5 separate regions of the Homo sapiens genome follow, and regions 1, 2, 3 and 4 are each linked to region 5. The links come from fine-mapping of genetic effects on gene expression. A gene starts in region 5. Each other region holds a variant in brackets. All regions are shown on one strand. Distances are from middle to middle.

Region 1 (6,201 bases), 280 kb before region 5:
AGCAAATGGCCAAAATGAATGAAAGCCGGGGCCGACTGTGCTCCGAAAAAGCTGCCTGCAGCTCCCCCTTCAGATTCTGTGCTCATCGAAACAGTCTTGCTGGTCTCACCGAGTGACTTTATACGCCCATGTTATGCATCTGAATGAATGGATGTGAATGTGGTTTTACATCATGGGCTGGAGCTTTTGTCTGTTTAATGGATCAGGGTGGTAGGTCATCTTCATTTCAAAAAAGGGTTCTGCTACAAAAACCAAGATTGAAACTCTCTGCCACAGATGACAAGTAAGTCCCCTGGCTGCTGGGCAGGGCCAGGGTAGGAACATATCTCCCTCCTGAGAGCTTGGGGAGTGTCCAGGTTCACCTGGAGGCGGAGCACAGGTGAGGGTGGCAGGGAAGAGTGCCCAGGGAGTCAGCAGAGGGAGTCAACTCACCTCCAGCGAGATGGGGTTCTGGATTCCGTTCTGCTTGCCAGCAGGTTTGGGGGATGCAGGTGGGTCTAGGGCGTCACCCTCCGTGGACTGCTTCCTGTTCCCTTTGACAGGGGCTGCTGCAAGGAGAGAGGGAAGGAGTAAGGAGGAAGGGGTGGGGAGAGAGCATATGAGATGCAAGCAGGGAGGAACAGGAGCACTCTCCCTACTCCCAATTGGAGTTGCCAGAGGGCGCCAGTGCAGGGGCTCACTCCTGTGATCCCAGCACTTTGGGAGGCCCAGGCAGGCGATGACCTGAGGTCAGGAGTTCAAGACCTGTCTGGGCAACGTAGTGAGACCCCGTCTCTATTATTAAAAAAAAAAAAAGAATTGGCCAGGGGGAAGGGGTGTGTCCCTGGCTGCACATAGGCTACATGCACACACACACACAGGCCCTCCTCCCCGCTCCCCGACAACCCGCTGCATCCGCTCCACACCTGTCCCTTTTCTTTCCTCTGCTCCAACTATCTCCCCACATCTTTGAAGGAAACGCAAAACCACCTTGAGGTCAAGTCACAGGAGGCCGGGGTTGGGCTGTGGTGCTTGGGGAAATCCTGTCTCCAAAATCTGCCCCATGCTCAGACACAGAGTTGAGAAGCAGCTTAGTCTCACTGGAGAGCTAAAGGATCCCATGGCTGTGGCCCCAAAGCAACACAGGGGTCCCTGGGTAGTAGTTCCTCTGGGAATATTCAGGAATATCTGACCTTTCCCTGAGCATCTGCAGAGTTCTAACTGCCCTAATAAGGCCACATGCTCTCCTCACCTACAAGGGTCCTGGTGACCCCTCAGGTCTCTGCTGACAAGTGCCTTCCTCTGGGTGGCCTCCTCTGGCCCCTGGCCACGGGCAGCTCCTCCCTCGCCCTAGGCTACTCACAGCCATCCTGGCTGAACTGCCTGTGGCTCCTGGGGCTCCCTGATAGTTCGGTGAGGCTTCCCATACCCCACACAGCAGGTGCCAAGCTGGAATGAGCAAGGCTCACAACAACCCTGCGTGGTGGGCAGGAGAAGCCATGGGCTGTATTTTACTAAGAACCACCATGTGCTGATGGTTGCAAAAACGCAACACCTCTGCCACTGCAAAAACCACAACCACTGGAAACTGCCTGAGGCCACACAGCAGGCTGGCAGCAGATACCAGACCAGGAACCCACATCTTCTGACAACCTTTTCTTTCTGTCCTTTGTTCTTTTGTTAATCAAGTATGAATTGGTTCACTCCCTCCCAGGACATCCTTATTGTTAGGAACCTATGAGATTTCCCTTCCATCCCAGACAGAAAAAGAATCTCCTCAGGAACAAGAAACCCAAACCAGCGTAAGCCAGGGGCCAGTGGTACTCAGAGGCACAGGGTAGAATCCTTGGCCACTGAGTGGTCCTGCTTTGGTAGGTGTTCTTATGTCTTCCCTCCATGTTGATGGCTGCTGACTGATTTCAGGGTGGTGGTTTCTTGGGCTGGGGTGACTGTGGCAATTTCTTAAAATAAGACAACAATGAAGTTTGCCACATCCATTAACTCTTTTTTTTTTTTTGAGTCAGAATCTTGCTCTGTTGCCCAGGCTGGAGTGCAGTGGCGTGATCTTGGCTCACTGCAATCTTCGCCTCCCAGGTTCAAGTGATTCTCCTGCCTCAGCCTCCCGAGTAGCTGGGACTACAGGTGCGTGCCACTAAGCCCGGCTAATTTTTGTATTTTTAGTAGAGACGGGGTTTCACCATATTGGCCAGACTGGTCTCAAACTCCTGACCTCATGATCCACCCACCTCGGCCTCCCAAAGTGCTGGGATTACAGGCATGAGCCACTGCACCTGGCAACTCTTCCTTTCATGAAAGACTTCTCCATGGCATGCATGTGATGCTATTTTTGACAGCATTTTATCCACAGCAAAACTTTCAAAACTGATGTCCCTCCTCTCAAACCCTGCTGCTGCTTTATCAACTAAGTTTCTGTAACATTCTAAATCCTTTGTTGTCATTTTGACAATGTTCACAGCATCTTCGCCAGTAGATTCCACCTCAAGAAGCCACTTTAGGATGGGCGCGGTGGCTCACGCCTGTAATCCCAGCACTTTGGGGGCCAAGGTGGGTGGATCACCTGAGGTCAGAAGTTTGAGACCAGCCTGGCCAACGTGGCGAAACCCTGTCTCTACTAAAAACACAAAAGTCAGCTGGGTGTGGTGGCAGGTCCCAGTAGTCCCAGCAACTCAGGAGGCTGAGGCAGGAGAATCCTTTGAACCTAGGAGGCGGAGGCTGCAGTGAGCTGAGATTACTCCACTGTACTCCAGTCTGGGCGATGGAACAAGACTCTGTCTCAAAAAAAAAAAAAAAAAA[G/AG]AAAAAGAAAAAGAAAAGAAAAGGAAAGAAAAAAAAAGAAGAAAAAAAGTCACTTTCTTTGCCCACCCATAAAAAGCAACTCCTCATCCACTCAAGTTTGATCATGAGATTGCAGCAATTCAGTCTCATCCTCAAGCTCTGCTTTCTAACTCTAGTTCTCTTGCTGGTTCCACTGCATCTGCAGTGTCTTCTCCACTGAAGTCTTGAAGCCCTCAAAGTCATCCAGGAAGGTTGGAATCAAATTCTCCCAAATGCTTGGATATTTTGACCTCCTCCCACGAACCACAAATGTACCTGAAATGCTCTCCGGAGGTTTTCAATGTATTTTGCCCATCAGAGGAATCACTATCTATGGCAGCTACAGTCTTACAAAATGTATTTCTTAAATAATAAGACTTGAAACTTAAAATTACTCCTTGATCCTTGGCTCTAGAATAAATGTTGTGCTAGTAGGCATGAAAACAACATGCAGCTCCTGGTACATTTTCATCAGCGCTCTTGCATGACCGGTTGCCTTGTCAATGAACAATAATATTTTGAAAGGAATCCTTTTTTCTGAGCAGTAGGTCTCAACAGTTGGCTTAAAATACTCAGTAAACCATGTTATAAACAGATGTGCTGTCATCCAGGCTTTGTTATTTCATTTTTAGAACACAGAGTGAGTAGATTTAGCATAATTCTTAAAGGTTCTAGGTTTTTTGGAATGATAAATGAGCACAGGCTTCAACTTAAAGTCACCAGTACCAGCTGCATTAGCCCCTAACAAGAGAGTCAGCCTGTCTTTTGAAGCCATGCATTGACTTCTCCTTAGCTATGAAAGTCCTAGATGACATCTTCTTCTGATACAAAGCTGTTTCATCTACATGGAAAATCTGTGGTAGTGTGGCCACCTTCATCAGTGATCTTAGCTGGATCTTCTGGATAAATTGCTGCAGCTTCTACACCAGCCCTGGTTGATTCGCCTTGCACTTTTATGTGATGGTGATGGCGTCTTTCCTTAAACCTCATGAAGCAACCTCTGCTAGCTTCCAACTTTTCTTCTGCAGCTTCCTCACCTCTCTCAGCCTTCACAGCATTGGAGATTTAGAGCCTTGGTCTGGATTAGGCTTTGTCTTAAGGGAATGTTATGGCTTGTTGGATCTTCTATCCAGACTTCTCAAACTTTCTCCATTATCAGCAATAAGGCTGTTTTGCTTTACCATGCGTGTTCACTGGAATAGCACTTCTGATTTCCTTCAATAACTTTTCCTTGGCATTCACAACTTGACAAACTGGTGCAAGAGGCCTAGCTTTCGGCCTATCTGGGCTTTCGACCTGCCTTCCTCACTAAGTTTAATTATTTCTAGTTTTTTTATTTAAAAGTAAAGACCTGTAACTCCTCCTTTCACTTGAACACTTAAAGACCATTGTAGGACTGTTAATTGGCCCAGTTTCAATATTGTTGTGCCTTAGGCAACAGGGAGGCCAAAGAAGAGAAAGAGAGGAAGAGAGATGGGGAATGCTGGTCGATGGAGCAGGTGGAGGAGGAGCACACACAACATTTATCGATTTAGTTCACTGTCTTTGTGGGTGGGGTTCATGGTACCCCAAAACAATGACAATAGGAACATCAAAGATCACTGATCACAGATCACCATAACAGATATAATAATGAAAAAGTTTGAAATGTTGTAAGAATCACCAAAATGTGACACCGAGACACAAAGTGAGCACGTGCTGTTAAAAAATGGCATCGATAGACTTGCTCGATGCTGGGTTGCCACAAACCTTCAATGAGTAAAAAATGCTGTATTTGTGAAGTACAATAAAGCAAAGCATGATAGAGCAAGGTGTGCCTGTACATTCTCTCCCTCAGTCCCGGAGGAATTCCATTTTAAAGAGGGGGAATCTGAAGCCAGAATGGTTATGGGTAAGTTGCTTGCCTCCCTGGGGGACCAGGATTCAAAACAAAGTCTGATTCTGGTCCAGTGGCTGCTGTGGTTATCAACATTTGCAAGGCCTTCATGAAGAGTCCAAGTAAGCCTGGAGAGAAACCAGTCCTAAGGCTTGTCAAAGAGAAAGAGACCAGGGCCACCCTCTTGGGCTAGCCTCTGACCCACCAGTCTCCAGAAATCCTGGGTACTAACAAGTGACCCAGCAGACTGATGCCTTTCCAACCAAGTCCTCTGTGACTCTGTGCTTCAGTCTTCCCTGCTATGAAATGGGAGAGGAAGATCCTTGAGTTCTTTGCTAGCTATCCGTGAATTCCTGAAGTCTTCCAGGTCCAGAAGCACCTCCTCCACTGGCTCTTCTCCCACTGCCTGCTACCCTCAGCTCACACATCCCCTCCCCTCATTCCTGCTGCCCCAGAGCCTCAGCATCGACAGACCCTCTCCATGTCTTCCTTGGTGTGACTGGGGCTTCTTAAGTCACAGACTTGCTATGTGACCCTTGGCAAGTCGCTGCACCTTGGGCTTCAGAAAAATACAGTGGTTAGACAGGGCCCATCAGAATCACCTGGAGGAGCATAATGCTCCGGCCCCATCCTCAGAGTCTGATTTAAGGTCCAAGGTGGGGCAGCAGGGTTTAAAGCTCCCCAGGGCATCCCAGTGGGCAGCCAGGTTGTGAGCCACAGGGCGAGAGGGGCCCTAGTCCCTTCTGCATGGTTCAGAGTTTGCAAGCTCTGCCTGGACCACACCAGGGGAAAATCTCCTGGAGTTGGGTGCTCGTGTTACCTGGAAAGGAGGTCACCAATCCGAGCTGTTTAACCCCAGATGGGAAAGGGATTAGAGCTGTTCGCCTTAAGCCACAAAGGGAAACATTCTATCTCTGTGTCCAGCTGAGTCCCCAGATGAACTCGGTCTCCATTCTCAGGGTTAGTGCTCTGTCCTGCCAGGGCCCTCTGGGTTGCAGGCCTTTGGGCCCCCTCTTCTGCAGCATTAGATGAGCAAGAAGGGAGAGTCCTCTCCCCCTTGGTCTCCAGGGTGCCCTCTGTCTTGTCCCTGGCTGCCCTAATCCCTCCCTTTCCCTGATCATTCACAGATCAGGGTTATATTTGTAAAAGGGGTTCTGCTATAAAAAATAAGCTTGAAACCCGCTGCCATAGATGTTGGGCCATGCAGGTCCAGCGTTGGGAGGTAGAGAGCTGGGAGCCAGGCAGGCAGGACCTGCATGGTGGGGTGGGCCCTCTCCTGGCTCTGTGGAGGAGGGAAAAGGCTTATGGAGCTGGAGGCCCCGTCTCCCAGCCCCACTCAGCCCACAGAGGCAGGAGAAACCCACTTGCCCCTGATAGCTGCTGCTGCTGCTGTGAGCCACCGCACTACTGCCTTGTTCCCAGCCTGTGTGTGCAGATTCTTTTCTGGCACAATGCCTTACATGTTTTATTTGTAACAGAAGTGGGGGATCAAATGCAAAAAAGAAAACTGCTCT
Region 2 (6,201 bases), 52 kb after region 5:
GTTTCACTCTATTAAATCCTGCAACTGAAAAAAAAAAAGTTAAAAAGAATAATGATAGGTACTAAATTGCTATGATATAGATTCCATTGGATACATTTGAAAATGATGTAACATCTTTATTTTAAAATAATATTTACAACAATCCAGAAATGGTGTAATGTGCAATCATTTAAACTCATAATCTTGGATCACCTTAAAAAATGCAAAGTGGGGATATAGTTTTTCAACATTGTTCTGGGGATACACAAGTAAACAAAGTTTGTTGATAACAGGTGGAGCACCATGGCTCATGCCTGTAATCCCAGCATTTTGGGAGGCTGAGGCAGGTGGATTTCTTGAGCCCAGGAGTTCGAGACCAGCCTGGTCCACATGGCAAAACCCTGTCTCTACAAAAAAATACAAAAATTAGCCAGGCATGGTAGCATGCACCTGTAGTCCCAGCTACTTGAGAGGCTGAAGCAGGAGAATTGCTTGAGCTGGGAGGCGGAAGTTGTAGTGAGCAGAGATCAAGCCACTGCACTCCAGCCTGGGTGACAGAGTGAGACCCTGTCTCAAAAAAAAAAAAAAAAAAAAAAAAGTTGGTTTATTTGAAGGGAGGTCATCTGAGACAGTACTATTAGAACCTTAAAAAAAGTGACAGAATTCTGTCAAAAAATTGATTTTTTAATTTCTAAACAGGAAGAAATGATAGGGAGGTACAGAAATAGAGGCAGGAAACATATAGTTGTCCCTTGGTATCTGCGGGGGATTTGTTCCAGGACCTCCTGTGGATGCTCAAGTCCCTGATATAAAATGGCATAGTATTTGCACATAATCTATGTACATACTCCCATATACTTTAAATCATCTCTAGATTCCTTATAACTAATACAGCGTAAATGCTCTACAGTTGTTATACTGTATTGTTTAGGGGAGGGGTGCTCACAGCGCATTACCGCCTGAACTCTGCCTCCTGTCAGTTCAGCGGTGACACTGGATTCTCACAGGAGAGCGAACCCTATTGTGAACTGTGCATGCTAGGGATCTAGGTTGCTATGAGAATCTTACTAATGCCTGATGATCTGAGGTGAACAGTTTCATCCCAAAACCATCCTACCCCGTCCGTGGAAAAACTGTCTCCCATGAAACCAGTCCCTGGTGCCAAAAAGTTTGGGGACCGCTGGTTTAGGGAATAATGACAAAAAAGTGGGTACATGTTTAGTATAGATGCAATTTTTTTTCCCAAATATTTTCCATCCACAATTAGTTGAATCCCTGGATGCAGAACCCGTAAATACAAAGGGCCACCTGTATATGCCATTGTTTTTAAAAATATATAGGCCGGGCGCGGTGGCTCACACCTGTAATCCTAGTACTTTGGGAGGCCGAGGCGGGTAGATCACGAGGTCAGGAGTTCAAGACCAGCATGGCCAAGATGCTGAAACCCTGTCTCTACTAAATATACAAAAATTAGCTGGGCGTGGTGGCACGCGCCTGTAATCCCAGCTACTTCAGAGGCTGAGGCAGGAGAATCGCTTAAACTCGGGTGCCAGAGGTTGCAGTGAGGCAAGATCAAGCCACCGCACTCCAGCCTGGGCAACAGAGCAAGACTTCGTCTCAAAAAAAAAAAAAAAAAAAAAAAAAAAAAAAAACAACTTAGCAGTGGAAAGAGAAGTGGTATCTAGAAAGGGGAAGAGTTAAAGCCTCTTTTTAAAGACTTTTATCCCCAAAGCCTTTTTTGAAGATGAACTCGATTATGTTTATGTACTGATGGGAAACAGGCAGTAGGATGGAGAAAATGGCTGCATTAGAGAGGCTCAGCAGGAGTTTCTGAGGATTCGTTTGGTTTATAGGATATTGGTAGAAAACTTATGTATACATATAAAATCAAACCCACAAAGTACTCCTTTTTTTTTTTTTTTTTTTTTGAGACAGAGTCTCCCTCTGTAGCCCAGGCTGGAGTGCAATGGCATGATCTCGGCTCACTGCAACGTCCGCCTCCCAGGTTCAAGCAATTCTCCTGCCTCAGCCTCCCAAGTAGCTGGGATTACAGGCATGCACCACCACACCTGGCTAACTTTTGTATTTTTAGTAGAGATGGGGTTTCACCATGTTGGCCAGGCTGGTCTCGAACTCCTGACCTCAGGTGATTCGCCCGCCTTGGCCTCCCAAAGTGCTGGGATTACAGGCGTGAGCCACCGCACCCGGCCAAAGTGCTCCTTTAAAAAAATTATTATTATTAAGAAATCCACTTCTCTAACTGTCACAAAGTCCAGGCTGAGTTAACAGTGATGAGTTCCGGAGGTAACTCCACCCCACTCCGGGTTTTCTGGTTACAATCACTGTATTCACTCTCCACCTCAACTGAAAACCCAGACTCAGGAAGCCTCAAGCCCTGCCCTTCTATTCCTGGCAGATGCCAAGGCCAACTATGTAGGAGGCTTTTTTAGAGAAGACACTTCATCTTCCCAAAAGACAAACCCTCCACTCTGCTTTATGAGGCAGATAGCAACAACAAACCACCAATGGGTTGGGGCTTGCGCAGGCCTCATTGGCTCCTTTTAAAAATGTTTTTAGAGAGAGGGTGTAGTGGCTTATGTCTGCAAACCCAGCACTTTGGGAGGCCGAGGCAGGCAGATCGCCTGAGGTCAGGAGTTCGAGACCAGCCTGGGCAACATGGTGAAACTCCGTCTCTACTAAAATACAAAAAATTTGCTGGGCATGGTGGCATGGGCCTGTAATCCCAGCTACTTGGGAGGCTGAGGCATGGGAATTGCTTGAA[C/A]CCAGGAGGTAGAGGTTGCAGGGAGCCAAGATCCAGCCTAGGCAACAGAGTGAGACTCCGTCTCAAAACAAAACAAAACAAAACAAAAAACCCCTGGCTAAACACGGTGTCAAATACTACTTTCTGTTACATACACATTTCTTCTTCACTGCTTTCCAGATGAAATAAAACCTCATTAATCCAACCTAAAATCGGACAGGCTGGATAGGAAAGACCTAAATTTCGGTTCCCAGGAAAGCATAATCTCTCTTTGGAGAAACAGTTACTTTTATTAAGAACGTCTAAAATCGCATAACTCTTTAGCTACAGTAAAATTCCTAAATGCCTTGGAACCAGCAGTCCATTTCACACCAAGACAGTTTATAATATTTTTTCTTCTGTCAATAAGGTGCTTAAATATAAGATTTAAAAGGGTAAGGAAACAACTTAGCAGCTTTGTTTTAATGAGGCTGGATACAGAATAGTAATTTAATACACTTTGAGATCATTTAGCCAGGTTGCTCACAGGTGAGTAAATCTGTTTACCTTCCAACACTGTCACCTTTGGGTCAAAAAGAGAGGGACAGCTACTACTTGACCTAGGGCATCTGCCCCAACAAACTCTCTTCTGTTGCTCTTTTACCAAAAGGCTGACATATTTGCAGACTGCGACGGGCCACCTGCCCATGTGACTCCCTCTGGACTGTCCTGGGCGCTCAGGCTGTGACACGGGTCCATTCTTGGACCGAGGAGTTAGCAGAGAGGAATGTTTGGGGTGCTTCTGGGAGAGCCAGGAGGGGAGGCCGGGGAAGGTTTTGATGGCAGGCGTCGAAGGAAGGTTTTGATGGCAGGCGTCGAAGGCCTGAGGAGTCCCCCTTCACCAGTGGTGTCTTTACTGCCCCCTACCCCATCCTGGTGTAACCACCCAATGGGTTCACCTTGCCTGCTGCATAGACAGAGCTGATTTATCAAGACAAGAGAATTGCAATAGAGAAAGAGTAACTCACGCAGAGCCCACTGTGCGGGAGACCAGAGTTTCATCATTACTCAAATCAGTGTCCCTGAGCATTTGGGGATCAATTTTTTTTTTTTTTTTTGAGATGGAGTCTCGCTCAGTTGACCAGGCTGGAGTGCAGTGGCGTGATCTCAGCTCACTGCAACCTCTGCCTACTAGGTGCAAGCAATTCTCCTGCTTCACTCAGCCTCCCTAATAGCTGGGATTACAGGGGTGCACTACTATGCCCAGGTAACTTTTGTATTTTTAGTAGAGACGGGATTTTGCTATGCTGGCCAGGCTGGTCTTGAATTCCTGACCTCAAGTGATCTGCCTGCCATGGCCTCCCAGCAAAGTGCTGGGATAACAGGCGTGAGCCACCGCACTGCACCTGGCCAAGAGACCTTTTTTTTTTTTTTTTTTGTGAGACGCAGTCTCGCTCTGTTACCCAGGCTAGAGTGCAATAGCGCTATTGTGGCTCACTGCAACCTTGGCCTCCTGGGTTCAGGCGATTCTCCTGCCTCAGCCTCCCAAATAGTTGGTATTATAGGCGCCCACCACCATGCCTAATTTTTGTATTTTTTGTAGAGACGAGGTTTCGCCATGTTGGTTAGGCTGGTCTCAAACTCCTGACCTCAGGTGATCCGCCCACCTCAGCTTCCCAAAGTGCTGGGATTAAAGGCATGAGCCACTGTGCCAGGCCCCAACCCAGAGTTTTAAAGGAGACTTTGGTGGGTGGGGGAAGGTCAGTGAGTCCAGAGTGCTGATTGGTTGGGTCCGAGATGAAATCATAGGGAATTGAAGCTGTCATCTTGCACTGAGCTGGTTCCCGGTTGGGGGTCACAGATCAAATGAGCCATTTTATCCATCTGGGTGGTGCCAGCCGATCCATCAAGTGCAAGGTCAGCAAAATATCTCAAGCACTGATCTTAGGAGCAGTTCAGGGAGGGTCAGAATCTTGTAGCCTCTTAAACCTTAACTTCTAACCTTGTGGCTAATTTGTTAGTCCTACAAAGGCAGTCTAGTCTCCAGGCAAGGACCTTTGTTTTGAGAAATGGCTGTTATCCTCTTTGTTTTAAACTATAAATTACGTCCCTCCCAAAGTTAGTTCAGCCTATGCCCAGGAATGAATAAGGACAACTTGGAGGTTAGAAGCAAGATGGAGTTGGTTAGGTCAGATCTCTCTGTCTCAGTTATAATTTTGCAATGGTGGTTTTAATCCCTCCCTTTGGGTTTATAACACCTTTATCTTAAGGTGTTGTTAATGAAGATGGAAAAAGGGCAAAGACCTTAACTTCTTCCTACTAACCAGGGGTGTAGTGAGGGGTAGGTGTTGACTCCAAGGTGAGAGGAGTGGAACCACTTTGCAACTGTCTGAGTGTACTCCTGCAGGCCTGACTGGGGTTCGAAGGCTTGCATGGCAAAGGCATTAGTATTGCCACCTATAGTTTTCGTACTGTGTTTAAGGGAACCGTGTACTATAAGGGAAATAATGAGTACTAGGGTAAGGAGTGCAGTTCCCAGTTTTAAAAGTAAAGATTTAAAAGCATTAGCCTGGGAACTTGTAGCCCACAAAGAATTTAGGATTTAGTTCAAACTGCAGAAAAAAACTTAAGAACAGTTAACAAAAGGTGTACCACAGTTTTTCTTCTGAAGCATAATTTTTCTCTCTCCAGTTCCCATTTTTACTAAAAACAAATCATGATAGAACTGATTTGTTTACAAAATAAACCGCAGTCTTATTGTACTTGGCCTGATGATTTGCATAAAGTGAAGCAAGAATAATTATTTTTCACATAGGCTTTGTTTTTTTTTTTGAGATGAAGTCTTGCTTCGTGGCCCAGGCTAGAGTGCGGTGGTGCGATCGTGGCTTACTGCAACCTCCGCCTCCCAGGCTCAGGCGATTCTCCTGCCTCAGTCTTCCAAGTATCTGGGATTACAGGTATCTGCCACCACGCCCAGCTAACTTTTTGTATTTTCAGTAGAGACAGGGTTTCACCATGTTGGCCAGGCTAGTCTCAAACTCCTAACATTGTGATCTGCCTGCCTTGGCCTCCCAAAGTGCTGGGATAACAGGTGTGAGCCACTGCGCCTGGCCTTCACATAGGCTTTTAAAATTGGCTTTGATGGAACTCTGTTCCATAAGAAATCTTAGATAAGACCTTTTTAAAGCCAAGCCCAGCCATGGGTTTGTACCCTCGAATACCTATGAGTTGGGTAAATTCCTCTCCTCTTGAGGTGTCAAGATAACTTAGGTCTCCTGAGCCTGTTAGAAAGTGACATTCTTTACTTACCACAGGTCAGGAACCTCGTACAGGGACTGTGTTGACATAGTATGAGGCCAGATTTCCCAAGGGGCTCTATAAGTCAATTTTTTGGCTTATTGGCTCTATAAGTCAACTTTGTTTTTTTTTTTTTTGAGACGGAGTCTCGCTCTGTCGCCCAGGGTGGAGTGTAGTGGCGCGAT
Region 3 (6,201 bases), 110 kb after region 5:
CCTCTAGCCTGGGTGACAGAGCTGTCTAAAAAAGAAAAAAAAAAAAAAACTGAAACAAAACAAACCAAAAAACAAACAAGAATGTACAGCTTTCTCTTTTTTGTTTTTATTGAAATGGGATCATACTATACGAACTTATTTTGCAACTCACTTGTCTTCACTGTATCTTGAAGCTTGTTCTAGATCAGTGTGTGTAGATTTACCTCATTATTTGTTTTTACAGATACTTGATAGAAGTGTAAAAACTTTGTATTCCATTTTTCCTCCCAATACAGACAATGCTGCCTTGGAAATCTTTGGACAAGTTTCTTCACCCAGAAGAGAGGTTGCAGGGTTGAAGAGCATGTGCTTTAAACATTTGGATAGGTTCTGTCAAATTGCTTTCTTTAAACACACGTTATCAACCAACTTACACTCCCACCAAAAGAGCACAAGTTCACTCATTCACCACCCTTCCCAGTATTTGAATGTTTGCCAACCTGATGGGTGGATCATCGCGCTGCCTTGTTTCAGTGGGTAGAGCATGGCTTTTGTGGATTACTGGAGATTTGCATTTCTTGGTCTGTGAATTCTGTGTTGTTATTCTTTGCCCCTTTCCTGTTGTGTTGTTTGACTTTTTCTTATTTGTTTTTGGAGGCCTCACATCTTTACTCACTTTCTTCACACTCTCTGTCCTCTTTTCCTGTTGGGCTTTTCTCCATAACCACCATCTGACGTACGATGTGTTTATTTCTTTATTGCTTGTCCTCCCCACCCCATTACAATGTAAGAACCAAGAGGGCAGAGATTTTGTCATTTGTCCATGTGAAGGTTTCCAGTACCTGAGACAATGCCTGGTGCCTAATAGGCACCCTCCAATTAACTGCTGGATGAATGAATGAATGAATAATATTTTATCTGTCACTTGCTTTCAAATATTTTCTTTCTTTCTTTTTTTTTTTTTGAGATGGAGTTTTGCTTTTGTTGCCCAGGCTGGAGTGCAGTGGCACAATCTCGGCTCACTGCAACCTCTGCCACCTGGGTTCAAGCAATTCTCCTGCCTCAGCCTCCCGAGTAGCTGGGATTACAGGCACGTGCAACCACATCTGGCTAATTTTTGTATTTTTTAAGAAGAGACGAGGTTTCGCCATGTTGGTCAGGCTGGTCTTGAACTCCTGACCTCAGGTGATCCGCCTGTCTTGGCCTCCCAAAGTGCTGGGATTAGAGGCATGAGCCACCGCGCCCAGCCTGTTTCTAAGTATTTTCTCCATGTTTGTCACTCACCCTTTACTTTTGTTTGTGGTGAGTTTGAGCATACAGAAACTTTTAAAAAATTTTAAGTTTATTTTGTTTTTTTTCTCTCCAACTTTTATTTTAGGTTCAGAGGGTATGTGTGCAAGCTTGTGACATGGGTAAATTGCACGTTATGGGGGTTTGGTGTACAGATTTTTTCGTCACCCCAGTAATAAGGATAGTACTAGACAGGTAGTTTTTCGACCCTCACCCTCCTCGTCCACCTCAAGTAGGCTCCATGTGTGCTCAACGTTTAGCTCCCACTTATAAGTGAGAACTTGCGGTATTTGGTTATCTATTCCTGCATTAATTTGCTTAGGATGATGGCCTCCACCTCCATCCGTGTTGCTGCAAAGGACTTGATCTCCTTTTTTATGGCTGTGTAATCTTCCATGGTATATATGCACCACATTTTCTTTATCCAGTCCACCGTTGATGGGCATTTAGGTTTATTCCTCCTCCTTGCTGTTGTGCATAGTGCTGTAATGAGCATTCACGTGCATGTGTCTTTGTGGTAGAATGATTTATGTTCCTTTGGGTACATACTCAGTAATGAATTGCTGGGTCAAATGATAGTTCTGCTTTAAGTTCTTGGAGAAATCTCCAAACTGCTTTCTACAGTGGCTGAACTAATTTACATTCCCACTGGCAGCATGGAAGTGTTCTCTTTTCTCTACAACCTCTCCAGCATCTGTTATTTTTTGACTTTTTAATAGTAGCCATTCTGACTGGTGTGAATTGTTATCTCATTGTGGTTTCGATTTGCCTTTCTCTAATAATTAGTGATACTGACCATTTTATTCATATGCTTGTTGGCCATATGTATGTCTTCTTTTGAGAAGTGTCTGTTCATGGCCTTTGCCCATTTTTATTATTTTTATTTTTTATTTTTTTGAGAGAGAGTCTTGCTCTGTCACCCAGGCTAGAGTGCAGTGGCGAGGTCTCGGCTCACTGCAACCTCTGCCTTCTGGGTTGAAGTGATTCTCCTGCCTCAGCCTCCCAAGTAGCTAGCTGGGGCTACAGGCGCGAGCCACCACAGCTGGCTAATTTTTGTATTTTTAGTAGAGACAGGGTTTCACATATTGGCCAGGCTGGTCTCTTGAACTCCTGACCTCAAGTGGTCTGCCTGCTTTGGCCTCCAAAAGTGCTGGATTACAGGCATGAGCCATTGTACCCAGCCCTTTGTCCATTTTTTAAATGGGGTTGTTTTTTGCTTGTTAATTTAAGTTCCTTATAGATTCTGGATATTAGAACTTTGTTGGATGCATTGTTTGCAAATATTTTCTCTTGTTCTGTAGGTTGCCTGTTTACTCTGTTGATGGTTTCTTTTGCTGTGTAGAAGCTGTTTAGTTTAATTAGGTCCCATTTGTTAATTTTTGGTTTTGTTCCAATTGCTTTTGGAGTCTCTGCCAGGGCTTGTGTCCAGAATGGTATTTCCTAGGTTTTCTTCTAGGGTTTTTATAGTTTTTATATGCTGGGAGTTCTGGGGAGGAGAGCCTGCATACCAGCCTGAGCTCCTAGTCCCCACTTAACCCTGGGCCACTGTCCTGTCAGCCAAATCGAACTGCTACCGACATACCTGGGTGCCACTGAAAGGTTTCCAGCAGAGCAATTTAGAAACTTAGAAAGTTCATTCTGGATGCTACAGGAGGAGGGGCGAGGCTGGAACCAGGATAGAGGTGGGGTCTCTCAACTCCCTCCAGCCAAAGACCACGAGGAACACAGCTGTAGTTGAACAAATCGGGCATATTTGCAGCGAGGGCAAACACACAGTACCAGGAACCGTGGGCGTCTGGGCAGGATGTGTGAGAAAGCACCTGTGCCACAGGCTGGGCTGTCCTGTGTCCTTGATGTGTTGTGGAGAATTGGACTCCACCTCTTGATAGAAGAGCGTCAAAATGTTGTAGTCATTTTTGCACTGTACCACAAGGCCATTCTTCTTTTTTGGGCTGGGAGAACAAGGAGAGGGAAGATGTTGTCAGAGTCTGGGACAGCGAGGGCTGTGAAGAGGGGCCGAGCTATGGGAACGGGAGT[C/A]CCAGAGGGACCCAGCCCGGCCCACACCTTGGTGTCAGGGCAGAGGAGGAGCAGGGATAGAAGTCCTCGAGACTCTTTCCCCACTTCGCCTCCTGGTGCCTTCTGGCTGAGTAGTCAGGAAGCAGAGAGTGAGAGATCCCACCTGACTGTCCGTGCATGGCAGCCTGTGGGCCCAGAGCAGGGAGGAGAACGGGTCTGGGAAGGGGAAGGGGACAGAGAGTAACCAGCAAAGCCACTGCATTCCCAGAGCCCAGAGCGGTGCCTGGCGCATAAGAGCTGCTCCACAAATATGTGTTGAATGGCTGAGTCTCACGGAGGTCTTAGTTCTGGGCAGCGCCCCTCTAATGTGTGTGATCCTCCTGGGGAAATTCCAGGGTGGAGGAGGAGAAGTTTATTGAAGGGGCAAGAAGGGGCTGGGGCCAAAAACAGTCAGCAACACCCTCTCGTGACCCAGCTCCTGGCTCTCTCGCGACTCTTCTTGCCGCTGATGTGACTGGGCTGTCCCAGTGCAGACTCTCTGGACCTCACTGGCCAGGGTCTGAGGGCCTCCTGCCAAGCTAGGACAAGAAGGGGCTGTGCAGGCGGCCAGGCCCCCTGGGTCCACCTTGGACTCCTGGATCCCCCGTGCCCTGAGCCTCTCAGCAAGCCTTGCCCGAGCCCGTGCTGGGCAGCAGGTCCCGAGGCGGCCCTCTCGGGAGCAGACGGCTGCAGTGCACCAGCATGGATTTCTTCTGTCCCAGCACCTGCTGCATGGAGCCTACAGAAGGGGCTGCCGATCAGGGAAAGGAGGAAGGTTCTCTTAGCATAAGCAGCCCGGAGATGCACGAGGAAGGGGCCCAGCTAGGTGGGGCAGGGGGGCACTGTCTGTGACGCTCCCCCTGAATTGACAACCATGGGGCCTCTGCTCTCCCTGACTGCCCTCTCTTGCCCCACAGGATCCAAAGTTGAGGAGTCAAGGGCCAGGAGGCTGAGAGGTGCCAGAGCAGGAGGGTCCTGGGGAAGGCTTTGTCCTCGGCTGTGAGAGAAGCTTACACATGGGCAGAGGGGCCAGGAAGAGCCCTATGCCTGGAGAGAGGCTGGGGGACAGAAGAAAAGCTTCTTCTGGGGTCTCCCTATAGGTGGGGGCTGCCCCCTGTGCTGGGAGGCCAGCCCACTTGCCTGCCCTCATGAGTCTGTTGTTCCTTCATTATTTTAATTATTTACGTATGGCAGGCCGTTCACAGCTTCCAAAACACCTTCCCGGATGGTGGCTCATTCAGTTCCGACAACAGCAGGGTGAGGTGGTGCTGCTGGGGCCCCTTTCCCAGTGAAGCGGCAGGGGCAGGGTGACATGATTCAGCACTGCCGCCGCCCACACAGAGGGGCCACCCCTCCTTGCACGCCATGAGGGGAAGGCACCCCGTGTGCGCCCTACTGCTGGCGTGTGAGCAGTTTCTATTTCCCTTGGCGGACTGGGACTATGGGGCCTTCTCCCCGCTGGGGCCTGTCACTGTCCCAGCCCTGGACCCAGCAGGGAACTTCCTCCACCCTCTATAGGGTGGGGTGTGGGGAGAGCCCCGCTTAGCCTCAGCTCAGGGCTTCTGGGCTGCCGGACACTGCCTGGCCCTGTGGTCCCCAACCCATGTGGCCACCTGCTCACCCATTTTCGACTCCATGCCAGGGCCAAGATGCTTGTAAGCCCCTTGTCCTTCCTCTGCTACTGACCTGTCCCCAGGCCCCAAGGGCTCCTTGGGGAGGTAGGAGATGGCTGAGGATAAGCCCAGTGGTTTTCTGTAACCTGTTCCTTCTGCCCTGTGGGAACCATGGCTGTGCACTGGTCCTGTCCACAGCCCTACTTGCCCAGTGTGGCTCTGGCAGGGGCCACCCCTGTGTTCAGGCATGGGGGCCTCCTGGGGGGACGGTGGCTGACCTGGGGGCAGGCAGGTTCTGCTGAGGGTGGGGGAAGGCAGCATGGCTCTGGGCAGCCTGTACAGGACATGTCTTCTGCCCCTCCAGCCTCTTGCTTAGGATTCACCAAGCATGACTCACTTTCCCTCTCTGAGCCTCAGTTTCCATATCTGTAAAGAAGGGCTGATGAGAATCCCTGGGGTGAGGACAGAGGGAGACATCCAAGAGGGTGGAGCCTGCTTGGAAGCAGCTGCATGACAGCAGCTCCCATGGGACAGCAAGTCCCTGAGGGCTTCACAGAGCTGCAGGGCACCCAAGAGGGAGCCACCACGCTCCGCCAGGGTGACGGGGAAGCTTCCTGGAGGAGGCAGCATTGGTGCTGGCCCCAGGGAGGCGGGCATGAGGGCATTCTGAGTCCACAAGAAGGGCATTGCAGACAGAGTGGCTGCTGTGAGCAAGGTGGTTTGGGGGCCATGGGCACAGGGTGGTGGGAAGAACTAAGCTGGGCTTTGCTGAAGAACATGAATCAAATAAGGGGAAGAAAGATGGGGCCTTGACTCCCTGCTGAAGGGTGTGGATGCATCCCAGAGGCAACTATAGGGAGCTGGGACTCAGATTTCCCTCGGGGAAGAAGACTTGGGCTGTGATGGGAGGGGGTGGGCAGACGGGGCCGGGAGAGGCAGAGGCAGGTGCCCAGGACCTGGGGGTGGCTGTTATCATAGTCTGGTTAGGAGACAACAGGGCCTGGCTGATTCTGAAACCAACTGGTTGGTTTGGGAAACCTCTGCTGTAACCTCACATTAGCCCCCAAACCAGTTTGTCACACTGCTTGGAGTCACCCCAACATGGGCCCTGGTGTGGGCACATGACATGCCGGGTCTCTGATCCTTTTGTGGCATGGAGTTAACCACCTCTCTGCTTTTCTGGTTTAAAAAACAGTGCTTGTTTGTTTTTCTCATATTTTATGTCATCATTCCAAACAAATTTTGGAGAATAAGTAAAAGGTAA
Region 4 (6,201 bases), 350 kb after region 5:
GTTGATTTTTGTTATAAAAATTAGATAAACTTGAATATCAATACATTGGCTTCTTTCATCAAAGAGCTATCTCACGGATAAAATAACTATTTAATGAATATTATTTAGAGAATAGTATGATCCTCCTAACAAGACAATTTTAAAAACAAATATAATGTTGAGTTCATCAACTGACTCTTAAAATGGTCATTTTCAATGAATATTGGAGTGATTTCCAAATATAAAAGCTTATCAATATCCAATGCTTTTAGCAGTTTTATTTAGTAGAAGTATGTCAAAATTGATAATTGATGATGCTTTTTATTGAGGTTTATATATCATACTTTGTTGCCATGAGTGGATGAAGAAATGTCTGGGAAGGCTAAACTAGAGAATACAGGAAACTTAGGCAAATTGTTGCACCACATGGATATGAGAAATAATGAATATTATTTACTCGGATTCAGGAAACATATATCCAAGCTGAGCAATTTAGGACACTTCACTGAAGAGACAGAGACATGAGGTGTACATTCAACTGAAGTGTCACTGTAAATGTGTACCTTCTCAGTTACTGGGCAAGTTAATGAACATGATGAATGTTTGCAGTATAATGGTGTAAATCATTTGGATATCTTGCATAAAAGACAAGTGGGTGCATGTGCCACCTGCTTTGAGATTTTCCCAGGTGATTGAGTTTCCCCTCTGATTTTTGATCACATTTGTCGTGATCACTTGGCATACCCTTTTTGATATTCACACTGATTTATTTTTCTTTTAGATATACGAGAAATCATATTATGTTTGAAATAGTTAGGAATATATCGTGACACATCAATTCCTGTTTTCTTTAGTATATTTCTGTCATGCTCCTGGCTTAAGACATAAAGTAGAAAACATCAAAGCCTACACTAATACAGGCAGGCAGATACAGCTTGATGCTAACACCGCATGAATGTATGGAAAATGTATCATATTTACATATGAGTGATTATCCCTTTTGTTTTTCAGTGTCTTCTCAGAAACAACCAGCCTTGAAGGTAATTAAACTTTCATTTATATTGTGAACTAGTGAATCTATAGTCTATGAAACATGCTTCATTTATTTATTTATTTATTATTTTCTTTCAAATTCCATTCAGGCTACAACTGACGAGGAAGATTCTGTTTCGAATATAGCCACAGAAATAAAGGATGGAGAAAAATCTGGGACAGGTAATTTTGCAAAAGACATTTAATGTCATGTTCAATCCAGATAGAAAAGAACTTCTCTACCCCGAATAAATCAGTGGAGGGCAGGTGGGGGGGCTCGCCGAAGCTGCACATTCTGATTCAGTAGGCCTGAGAGTCTTCATTTGTAATAAATTCTTGGGTGACGCTAATGCTGCTGGCTTGGAACGTGATCTTTGCAGTATGATTATACACTTCCCCACGTTGAAATTGGGAAGAAGAAATATGGAGAGAGGTTCAAGACATAAGGGGCTCTGGGGAACAGCATAGTTTTGCTTTAATTCTACAGCATGGTTTCACTAAGGGTGGAAGGAGAAAGAGAGGAAGTATAGATTTTACAGACATCACATCGTACTGCTGAGAAAAGACAGAAAACTGATAGTAATAACCCATAGACACTGTAGAATGAGAACTAAGGAGATCCCTGATGTAGCAATTATTTTCCCAAGGAAGATGGATTGTCAGACAGGAAGGAGGGAAAAGAAGTTATTTATATAATTTAGGGGTTTCTGCTGAGGAAATCTGAGTGAACTCACTTCACATGCATTTGGAATATGTGCCTAAAAAATATTTGATTTTGGCAGCTCCAGGAACTACTGGAAGCAGGAAACAATGCTAGAATTGGGATAAAGCACACTGACTCATTACTCCTTTTTGTTACTATTAGGCATCAGAGATACATGTTTTGTTGACTTATAAAAATGAGATAAACTTGAATATGAATACATTGGCTTCCTTGTTCCAGGAGCTATCTCTTGGATAAAATAGCTATTTCATGAAACTTCTTTAGAGACTAACATGATACTCCCAAGAAGTATCATGTTTTAGAAACAAAAATTATGTTGAATTCTAATTAACTCCTAAAATGGTCATTTTCAATGAATATTGCAGTGATTTCTGAATGAAAAACTGCTCAATATCTAATGCTTGTAGCAGTTTTACTTTGTAGAAGTATGTCAAAATTGATAGTTGATGATATTTTTATTGAGGCTAATATATTATCCTTTGGTGCCATGACATGATGAAGAAAGTTTCAGAGGGATAAACTAGTGGATACAAGAAACTTAGGCAAATTATTACACCACATGGGTGTGAGAGATAATGAATATTATCTACTAGGTATCAGCAAACAGATATCCAAGGTGATCAATTTAGGACACTTCCACTGAAGGGGATGTGAAGTGTACATTCAACTGAAGTGCCATGGTAACTGTGTGCCTTCTCAGTTATTGGGCAAGTTAAAGAGCATGATGAATGTTTGTAGTATAATGATGTAAATTCTTTTGATTTGTTGCACGAAAGACATGTGGGATCATGTAGCACCTGCTTTGACATTGATTCTCACGTGTATGAGTTGCTCCTCCGATTTTAGATCAGTTTGTCCTCATCACTCGGCATATCCACGTTGATATTGACACGGTTTTATTTTAGTTTTTGACGTATGATGAATCATACCATGTTTGAAATTGTAAGGATATATTTGATGGAGCCTGTATTCCCTCTTACCAGTGTATTTCTGTCATGTTCCAGTCCCAAGACACAAAGTAGAAGACATCAGAGCCTACACTAGTACAGGCAGAAGGATACAGCTTGATGCTAACACTGTGTGAATGTATGGATAACTTTATCATATTTATATATGAGTGATTATGTATCCCTTTTGCTTTTCAGTGTCTTCTCAGAAACAACCAGCCTTGAAGGTAATTAAACTCTCATTTACATTGTAGTCTATGACACATACTTCATTGATTTATTTATTTATTATTTTCTTTCAAATTCCATTCAGGCTACAACTGACGAGGAAGATTCTGTTTTGAATATAGCCACAGAAATAAAGGATGGAGAAAAATCTGAGACAGGTAATTTGCAAAACACATTCAATGTCATGTTCAATCCAGATAAAAAAGAACTTCTCTATCCCGAATAAATCAGCGGAGGGTGGGTGGGGGGAGTCGC[C/T]GAAGCTGCACATTCTGATTCAGCAGGCCTGAGATTTTTCATTTGTAATAAATTTCTTGGGAGACGCTAATGCTGTTGGCCTGGAACATGATCTTTGCAGTAAGATTATACACTTTCCCACATTGAAATTGGGAAGAAGAAATAGGGAGAGCAGTTCAAGACATAAGGGGTTCTGGGGAACAGCATAGTTTTGCATTAATTCTACAGCATGGTTTCACTAAGGGTGGAAGGAGAAAGAGAGGAAGTACAGATTTTACAGACGTCACATCGTACTGCTAAGAAAAGACAGAAAACTGATATTAATAACCTATAGACACTGTAGAAGGAGAACTAAGGAGACCCCTGATGTAGCAATTATTTTCCCAAGGATGATGGATTGTCAGGCAGGAAGGAGGGAAAAGAAGTTATTTATATAATTTAGGGGTTTCTGCTGAGGAAATCTGAGTGAACTCACTTCACTTGCATTTGGAATATGTGCTTAAAAAATATTTGATTTTGGCAGCTCCAGGAACTACTGGAAGCAGGAAACAATGCTAGAATTGGGATAAAGCACACTGACTCATTACTCCTTTTTGTTACTATTAGGCATCAGAGATACATGTTTTGTTGACTTTACTTATAAAAATGAGATAAACTTGAATATGAATACATTGGCTTCCTTGTTCCAGGAGCTACCTCTTGGGTGAAATAGCTATTTCATGAAACTTCTTTAGAGACTAACATGATACTCCCAAGAAGTATCATGTTTTAGAAACAAAAATTATGTTGAATTCTAATTAACTCCTAAAATGGTCATTTTCAATGAATATTGCAGTGATTTCTGAATGAAAAACTGCTCAATATCTAACGCTTGCTGCAGGTTTACTTTGTAGAAGTATGTCAAAATTGATAATTGATGATATTTTTATTGAGGCTAATATATTACCCTTTGGTGCCACGACTTGACGAAGAAAGTTTTGGAGGGATAAACTAGTGGATCCAAGAAACTTAGGCAAATTATTACACCACATGGGTGTGAGAGATAATGAATATTATCTACTAGGTATCAGCAAACAGATATCCAAGGTGATCAATTTAGGACACTTCCACTGAAGGGATGTGAAGTGTATGTTCAACTGAAGTGTCATGGTAACTGTGTGCCTTCTCAGTTATTGGGCAAGTTAAAGAGCATGATGAATGTTTGTAGTATAATGGTGTAAATCCTTTTGATTTCCTGCATGAAAGACATGTGGGATCATGTAGCACCTGCTTTGACATTGATTCTCACATGTATGAGTTGCTCCTCCGATTTTAGATCAGTTTGTCCTCATCACTCGGCATATCCACATTGAGATTGACACGGTTTTATTTTAGTTTTCGACGTATGACGAATCATACCGTGTTTGAAATTGTAAGGATATATTTGATGGAGCCTGTATTCCCTCTTACCAGTGTACTTCTGTCATGTTCCAGTCCCAAGACACAAAGTAGAAGACATCAGAGCCTACACTAGTACAGGCAGAAGGATACAGCTTGATGCTAACACTGTGTGAATGTATGGATAACTTTATCATATTTACACATGAGTGATTATGTATCCCTTTTGCTTTTCAGTGTCTTCTCAGAAACAACCAGCCTTGAAGGTAATTAAACTCTCATTTACATTGTATTCTATGACACATACTTCATTGATTTATTTATTTATTATTTTCTTTCAAATTCCATTCAGGCTACAACTGACGAGGAAGATTCTGTTTCGATTATAGCCACAGAAATAAAGGACGGAGAAAAATCTGGGACAGGTAATTTTGCAAAAGACATTTAATGTCACGTTCAATCCAGATAGAAAAGAACTTCTCTACCCTGAATAAATCAGCGGAGGGCGGTTGGGGGTGCTCGCCAAAGCTGCACATTCTGATCCAGCAGTCCTGAGAGTCTTCATTTGTAATAAATTCTTGGGTGGCGCTAATGCTGCTGGCTTGGAACGTGATCTTTGCAGTATGATTATACACTTCCCCACGTTGAAATTGGGAAGAAGAAATATGGAGAGAGGTTCAAGACATAAGGGGCTCTGGGGAACAGCATAGTTTTGCTTTAATTCTACAGCATGGTTTCACTAAGGGTGGAAGGAGAAAGAGAGGAAGTATAGATTTTACAGACGTCACATCGTACTGCTGAGAAAAGACAGAAAACTGATAGTAATAATCCATAGACACTGTAGAATGAGAACTAAGGAGACCCCTGATGTAGCAATTATTTTCCAAAGGATGATGGATTGTCAGACAGGAAGGAGGGAAAAGAAGTTATTTATATAATTTAGGGGTTTCTGCTGAGGAAATCTGAGTGGACTCACTTCACATGCATTTGGAATATGTGCTTAAAAAATATTTGATTTTGGCAGCTCCAGGAACTACTGGAAGCAGGAAACAATGCTAGAATTGGGATAAAGCACACTGACTCATTACTTCTTTTTGTTACTATTAGGCATCAGAGATACATGTTTTGTTGACTTTACTTATAAAAATGAGATAAACTTGAATATGAATACATTGGCTTCCTTGTTCAAGGAGCTACGTCTTGGATACAATAGCTATTTCATCAAACTTCTTTAGAGAACAACCTGATACTCCCAACAAGGCTATTTTAGAAACAAAAATGCTGGATTCTAATTAACTCCTAAAATGGTCATTTTCAATGAATATTGCAGTGATTTCTGAATGAAAAACTGCTCAATATCTAACGCTTGTAGCAGTTTTACTTTGTATACGTATGTCAAAATTGATAATTGATGATATTTTTATCGAGTCTAAAATATTATCCTTTGGTGCCACGACTAGATGAAGAAATTATAGGAAGGCTAAACTAGTGGATCCAAGAAACTTAGGCAAATTATTACACCACATGGGTGTGAGAGATAATGAATATTATCTACTAGGTATCAGCAAACAGATATCCAAGGTGATCAATTTAGGACACTTCCACTGAAGAGATGTGAGTGTACATTCAACTGAAGGGTCATCGGAATTGTGTGCCTTCTCAGTTATTGGGCAAGTTAAA
Region 5 (6,088 bases):
GTACGGTCATCACTACAAGACGCCAGGCGCTGGCCACTCGGGTCAAAGGCCAAGCTCCACACAGTGGATTCATGGCCCTCAAGGGTGGCACAGCATACCCAGTCATCCTCTTCCTCCCGGTACAGCTTCACTGTGTCATCATAGCTGGCAGAAGCTAAGAGCTGGGGGAAGAGTGAAAGGAAACCCAACATGTGTCTGTGTGGCCCAGGAAGCAAAGGACAGGTCAGTTCCAGGTATCTGCTTTTATTTTATTTTATTATTTATTTGAGATGAAGTTTGCTGTTGTTGCCCAGGCTGGAGTGCAATAGCACGATCTCGGCTCACCGTAACCCCCGTCTCCTGGGTTCAAGTGATTCTCCTGCCTCAGCCTCCCGAATAGCTGGGATTACAGGCATGTGCCACCATGCCCGCTAATTTTGTATTTTTAGTAGAGACGGAGTTTCACCATGTTGGCCAGGCTGGTCTCGAACTCCTGACCTCAGATGATCCACCCACCATGGCCTCCCAAAGTGCTGAGATTATAGGTGTGAGCCACCACACCCAGCCGGATCTGTTTTTATAAAGGGACTAATGTTTTTTGTTCACAGATGGAACTCTCCGTAAAAGCTAGATTAAGGCTGAAAAGCAGAGGAAGGCTGGGCACAAGCCTGCACACCAGAGCCCTTCCCACAAGAGTCCCTGCTTGACTCTTACCTCCTGACTTGGGTGCCAAACCACATGCTTGACATCCTGTGTGTGGGAGTTGAGAACACTGACACATTCATACTCATCCTCTTCATCAACTGTGGGAGAGAAAAAGGGGACCCAAGAGCCGACCCTGTCAGGGACACAGAGGGGGCTGTCAGGTGGTTCCCAATCCACCTGGAGGGACCTGGCCTCACCTTCCCAGACCCAAACGCTCTTATCTCGGCTGCAAGTGGCCAGGAGGTTGCCAGATGGGGCCCAAGCCACTGACTTGACCTCATTTTCATGGCCCTCGAGAGTGGTTACACACTGTGAAAGGGGAAAGAAAATGAGAATTAACAGCAGCTAACACCCCTAAGCCCCTTCCCATGGGTACAGCCCAACTGGCGCAGGTTGGCTCAGGTTCCTGAACCAGCCCTGGGGAGGAAACAGGCAATAATTCTGGTCCCAACCAGCCTGGGTACCTCAAAGTCATCCTGGTTCTTCTTCCAAATGCAAGTGGTAGCATCAAAGCTGGCAGAGGCCAGGTAATTACCGCAGGGGGACCAGGCTACCTTCCGCACGGTGCGCTGGTGGCCTTCAGAAAGGACAGACTTGCAGATCCAGCTGTCACCTAAAGGCGGAGCGCAGGCCAGGCTCTGGAGCTGGGTGCAGCACCATGAAGCCATTCAATATCAGGGGCTAGCACTGGAATCAAGCTAGTGGGGGAAAGCTCAGGGAGTGTATTTCACAGCTTTTACAAAGATGCAAATGAATCTACTTCGTCTGGAAGCTTTTTTTTTTTTTTTTTTTTTTTTTTGAGACGGAGTTTTTGCTCTGATGCCCAGGCTGGGGTGCAATGGCACAATCTCGGCTCACTGCAATCTTCGCCTCCTGGGTTCAAGGGATTCTCCTGCCTCAGCCTCCCGAGTAGCTGGGATTACAGGTGCCCGCCACAACGCCCAGCTAATTTTGTAGTTTTAGTAGAGACGGGGTTTCACCATGTTGGCCAGGCTGGTCTTGACCTCTTGACCTCAGGTGATCTACCCGCCTCTGCTTCCCAAACTGCTAGGATTACAGGCGTGAGCCACCGCGCCCAACCTCTGGAGGCATCTTTCTAAAACAAATCTGATCTAAAATTGCTATTGGTTCCCCAATGCCCTCGGGATAAAATGTGACCATCCAGTCGCAAGTTACTCTGAAGGCCACTTTCCTAACACCTCTCTTTTCCCATTTTCCTGCCTCTGCAGCTAACACAATTCCCTTGACATTTCAGCTTGTCTGCTGACGTTTTTCCTCCCAACAGTCGCAGACTTCTTTGCCTGTAAAGCCCTTCTCGGCGTGGCTAACATCCCACTCTCCCTCCGCCAGGAACAGGTTCAGCCTCCCCTGCAGGCTGAGCGCCTGCACTACGCGCAGGCTGAGCCCTCAGCGCTGAGGGCCGCGCAACCAGGCTGGGCCTTACCCTCCGTGCCCCAGATGCGGATTCTCCGGTCGCCGCCGCACGAGGCCAGCAGGGTCCCCGCGGGGTTCCAGGCCAGGAACCAGCAGCGGGAGTCCGGGTGCGCCGGGACACGGCCCAGCAGCACCAGCGAGTCCTTCATGTCGGCCCGACGCAGGGGGAGGTGGGGGCGGGCAGAGTCCGCTGAGCAGACAGCGGGTCTCACCGCGCGCGTCTGCGTACCGCCCACTCCAGGCTTCCGCGGCCGACAGAGGCTCCCGCTTCCGCCGGAGGACCTGGGTCGCCCCGGAAACTCAACTGCCCACTGCTGCGGCCGCCATACCCTCTGGGAGTTGTAGTCGCTCCCCTCACCTCGGCAGGGAAAGCATCGCGGGACCGCCTCGAACTACCAGTCCCGTGAGGCCCTGCGCAGAGCCGGCGGCGCGCCCAGGCTGTGACGCGCGCGGGGGACGGGGCGGGGAGCCGGAGGAGGCGGAGGCAGAGGAGGAGGAAGCCGGAAGTGCATCGGCCCCGGGTCTGTCCGGGCGTTGCGGGATTGGGGCCTGGGAACGCTCGGCCCCCGGCAGCCGAGAAGCCCGTGACTGGGCTGAGCAGCACCATCCCAGCCCTGGGGCCTGCTGACTGGTGAGGAACAGTGGGCGGCGTGGGGAGGGTCTTTTCTGCGCACAGGTCGCACCCCAAACCGCCGGTCCCAGATCACGGGTCCCCGATCCCCGCGGCCCAGCCCGGTCCTCCGCCCCTCGGCATCCTCTGGCTGAGACCCTGACTCCGGGTCTTTGCTCTAGCAGTAGCCGATCCCCGATCCCTCCGCCCCCCACTCGAGTCTGCCCAGACCCCATCTGGCCCCTGGCCCTCTTCGGTTGTCGTCCCGCAGTCCCATTCCGGAGTCTCCTGTCTCCGCCCCCCGAATTCCCGCAGCCCTCCCCGTCTCCGTCAGCCCCGGGTCCCACCCCCCTATCCTCTGGTGTCAACCCTGACAGCCCAGTCCCGGCTTCACCTGCAGCGAACCCGGAGCGTTGCTATCCTCCACCGGACTGTCAGGCTCTGCGCGCCCCGCGGAGGTCGGCGGCGACCAGCAGCGACTGCGGAGCGACGGCGGGCGGCCCCGGGCATGTACGCCCCCGGAGGCGCAGGGCTGCCCGGCGGGCGCCGGCGGAGGAGCCCGGGAGGCAGCGCTCTGCCCAAGCAGCCGGAGCGTAGCCTGGCCTCGGCCCTGCCTGGCGCCCTGTCTATCACGGCGCTGTGCACTGCCCTCGCCGAGCCCGCCTGGTTGCACATCCACGGAGGCACCTGTTCGCGCCAGGAGCTGGGGGTCTCCGACGTGTTGGGCTATGTGCACCCGGACCTGCTGAAAGGTGAGGGTGCTGCGCGCTGGCCCTTAAAGCCTCGGTGGGGGACAGAATGTGTTCTGGCTGAAGCAGAGATAGCCAGGGACCAGACACTTGGTTGAAGGAAACGGCCCCATAACTGCCTGGTGTTCATGCCCACCAGGTGGCTCTGTTTGGGGTCCGGCCCCTCATTAATTCTGATGTTATTCAGCTAAGCACCTACTCCTCACAGCCATGTTAATCCGGACTGCTGCTATTTTAGGATTCTGCTGGAGGAAGGACGCTGTGTATCGAGAAAAGATAAGGGTGCTAGGTATCACAGTTAGCTGGCCTCTTCTAAGGATCCTGTGAAATACGGAAAAGCTTCTTTGGGGCAGACTGATTAATGGAGAAAAAGGAACTTTTAATATGACTAGGTTTTAAAAGATATCTTAGAGTTCTATGGTAATCGGATGCGTATTAGAGAAGAAGGGAATCTGTGGCATTTTAGGTAATCGGAAGACCGTTCCATTGCCACCCGCAGTACAACAGTCGGAATGTGGCTCTTGGAACCATTATAGGTGTGCCTGACAGAGGCAAGGTTGCTTTGTTCATCATCATGCTTTCCGGCCAGATAGACAGCAGACGATGGGAGGGTCCTATGGGCCCCATAGTTTATCCTGCCCATTCTTGTCTCCAGTAAAAATTGTGAAGTGTGAGGACAGGACTGGACTGTATCACCTGCTTTTTACCCTAACAATGATCAATGTACCCCAAACAGTCCTTAGTAACAGCATAGTTCATCAACCCCAAGGTCTTTTGAGCCATCTTGAAGGTCTTATATCCTCTCTGTGCTATCCTGTCTGTGCTATTCCCTGGCTGTGATGCATTCCAGATGTTTACTGCACCGCCTATCAGAAGCACTTCCTGTTAGATATCTGCGTGTTACCTCCTGAAGAATTCAGGCACTGGGATTTGGTGAAAAGGTCCAAGTTCCCCGCTGTGCATCGGACCATACTCTGCTTCTGCAGGTCTAGGCTGAAAAGCCTCATCCTTGTGGCCAAATGTTGCCTTTCTCTGAGTGTTCTCTTACTGTTTTGCATCTCTCTTGAGTTTTAGAAGCTGTAGGGTGATTTTGTAGAAGGTTGGGGACAACTGGTTGTTTCCAGATTTCACCTTAATGGTACTCTTTGCTGGGTTGGCTCATTAAAGCCAAAGTTATGCACACGACAGAGGCCTTATATGCAGCCTTTTCTCTGTCATGTTGCTAATGGCACAAAGAGCATTAAGCTTGAGTGAGTCTTGGTGGTTTTTCTTTTAGCACATTGCCCTGTACTTGCTTTCTTTGAAGCACACATACCACCTTCCCACCACTAGACCCATCAGATCTAGAAAGCTAGATCTCCGAAATCTAGCACTGCATGGGGTGTGCTTAGCTGTGGCTCAGAAAAATGAAGGATCTCCCCAAGGCTACCCAGTTTAGGGTGGCAGAGCTGGGACTACCCCACCTCTGTTGATGCCAATATAAAATGATGCCGTGTCATTTATAGTTTTTATCCTTTGTTTTACTTCAGCTGTCATAAGGAGCAATCTCATAATTATTTCACTTTGGTGTGCATCCTTGTCGAAGGCATGTTAAAAATAAAAGTAAATTTTTGAGCCGGGCGTGGTGGCAGGCATCTGTAATTCCAGCTACTTGGGAGGCTGAAGCAGGAGAATCGCTTGAACTTGGGAGGCCGAGGTTGCAGTGAGCTGAGATCGCGCCATTGCGCTCCAGCCTGGGCAACAAGAGCGAAACTCCATCTCAAAAAAAAAAAAAAAAAAAGAAAGGCCAGGAACTGGCTCACACTTCTGATCCCAGCACTTTGGGAGGCCGAGGCGGGTGGATTGCCTGAGGTCAAGAGTTGGAGACCAGCTTGGCTAACATGGTGAAAGAAACCCTGTCTCTACTAAAAATACAAAAATTAGCTGGGTGTGGTGGCACACGCCTGTAGTCCCAGATACTCTGAAGGCTGAGGCAGGCGAATCGCTTGAACCCAGGAAGTAGAGGAGTTGCAGTGAGCCCAAGATCACACCACTGCACTCCAGCCTGGGCAACAGAGCAGAGCAAGACTCCATCTCAAAAAAAAAAAAAAAAGTAAATTCTTGGTGCAGGTTCTTCTTTGTTCACATGTGTATTTACCCTTTCTAAGAAATTATTCGGGCCAGGCCAGGCATGGAGGCTCACACCTGTAATCCCAGTACTTTGGGAGGCCAAGGCGGATGGATCACCTGAGGTCAGGAGTTCAAGATCAGCCTGGCCAACATGGTGAAACCCCATCTCAACTAAAAATACAAAAATTAGCCAGGCCTAGTGGCTGGTGCCTCAACTACCCAGGAGGCTGAGGCAGGAGAATCGCTTGAACCTGGGAGGTGAGGTTGCAGTGAGCCCAGATCACACTACTGCACTCCAGCCTGGGCTACAGAGTGAGACTCCATCTCAAAAATTAAAAAGAAAGAAATTATTCAGGCTCCGTTTTGTCTTTTGCAAAGCATGTTTTCTTAACCTTTACATTACATTTGCTCACATATTTAGAGACCTTAACCTGTGTATAGTTTCTACTTGCTTGCCTGTGGCCATCTCCTAAGAGCAGTTTGTGCCCATTAATAGGAGAGT

Alleles and levels. Positions count from the first base shown, and alleles are read on the strand shown. Sizes are in standard deviations (SD) of each study's normalised expression. Not every link is listed here.
As copies of AG replace G in region 1, the expression in neutrophils of the gene that starts at base 2,621 in region 5 goes down (moderate effect, 0.72 SD a copy in BLUEPRINT).
As copies of T replace C in region 4, the expression in putamen of the gene that starts at base 2,621 in region 5 goes up (large effect, 0.80 SD a copy in GTEx).

The links. PIP is the estimated chance that this variant, and not a neighbour inherited with it, causes the effect.
Region 1: its variant is fine-mapped to the expression of TMEM127 in neutrophils (BLUEPRINT, PIP 0.95).
Region 2: its variant is fine-mapped to the expression of TMEM127 in whole blood (INTERVAL, PIP 0.92).
Region 3: its variant is fine-mapped to the expression of TMEM127 in whole blood (TOPMed, PIP above 0.99).
Region 4: its variant is fine-mapped to the expression of TMEM127 in putamen (GTEx, PIP 0.97).

What each region holds. Positions count from the first base shown.
Region 1 is chr2:96,541,749-96,547,949 of GRCh38, reverse strand. ARID5A (AT-rich interaction domain 5A) reads right to left here. Exons shown (of 7, transcript NM_212481.3): 2 at 433-548. Among named protein-coding and RNA genes, the nearest start is that of ARID5A, 8.1 kb to the right of the region's middle. The variant G/AG (reference allele first, on the strand shown) is at 2,794.
Region 2 is chr2:96,210,970-96,217,170 of GRCh38, reverse strand. The region is part of intron 1 of STARD7-AS1 (STARD7 antisense RNA 1); the gene reads right to left. It overlaps SNORA112 (small nucleolar RNA, H/ACA box 112), which reads right to left and starts at 2,532; the gene lies at 2,409-2,532. The variant C/A (reference allele first, on the strand shown) is at 2,762.
Region 3 is chr2:96,156,480-96,162,680 of GRCh38, reverse strand. No RefSeq gene overlaps it. Among named protein-coding and RNA genes, the nearest start is that of DUSP2, 14 kb to the right of the region's middle. RefSeq lists enhancers at 3,525-4,062, 4,071-4,210, 4,371-4,780, 4,497-4,791, 4,603-5,141 and 1 more. The variant C/A (reference allele first, on the strand shown) is at 3,307.
Region 4 is chr2:95,916,600-95,922,800 of GRCh38, reverse strand. ANKRD36C (ankyrin repeat domain 36C) reads left to right here. Exons shown (of 88, transcript NM_001393982.1): 33 at 991-1,019; 34 at 1,122-1,194; 35 at 2,881-2,909; 36 at 2,996-3,068; 37 at 4,759-4,787; 38 at 4,874-4,946. Among named protein-coding and RNA genes, the nearest start is that of ANKRD36C, 72 kb to the left of the region's middle. The variant C/T (reference allele first, on the strand shown) is at 3,166.
Region 5 is chr2:96,262,530-96,268,617 of GRCh38, reverse strand. It overlaps TMEM127 (transmembrane protein 127), which reads left to right and starts at 2,621. Exons shown (of 4, transcript NM_017849.4): 1 at 2,621-2,749; 2 at 3,106-3,480. The coding sequence starts at 3,237. It overlaps CIAO1 (cytosolic iron-sulfur assembly component 1), which reads right to left and starts at 2,393. Exons shown (of 7, transcript NM_004804.3): 1 at 2,129-2,393; 2 at 1,149-1,297; 3 at 882-993; 4 at 694-782; 5 at 1-161. The coding sequence starts at 2,267. RefSeq lists enhancers at 5-1,204, 1,802-2,081, 2,312-2,501 and silencers at 2,732-2,781, 2,792-3,001, 3,052-3,361.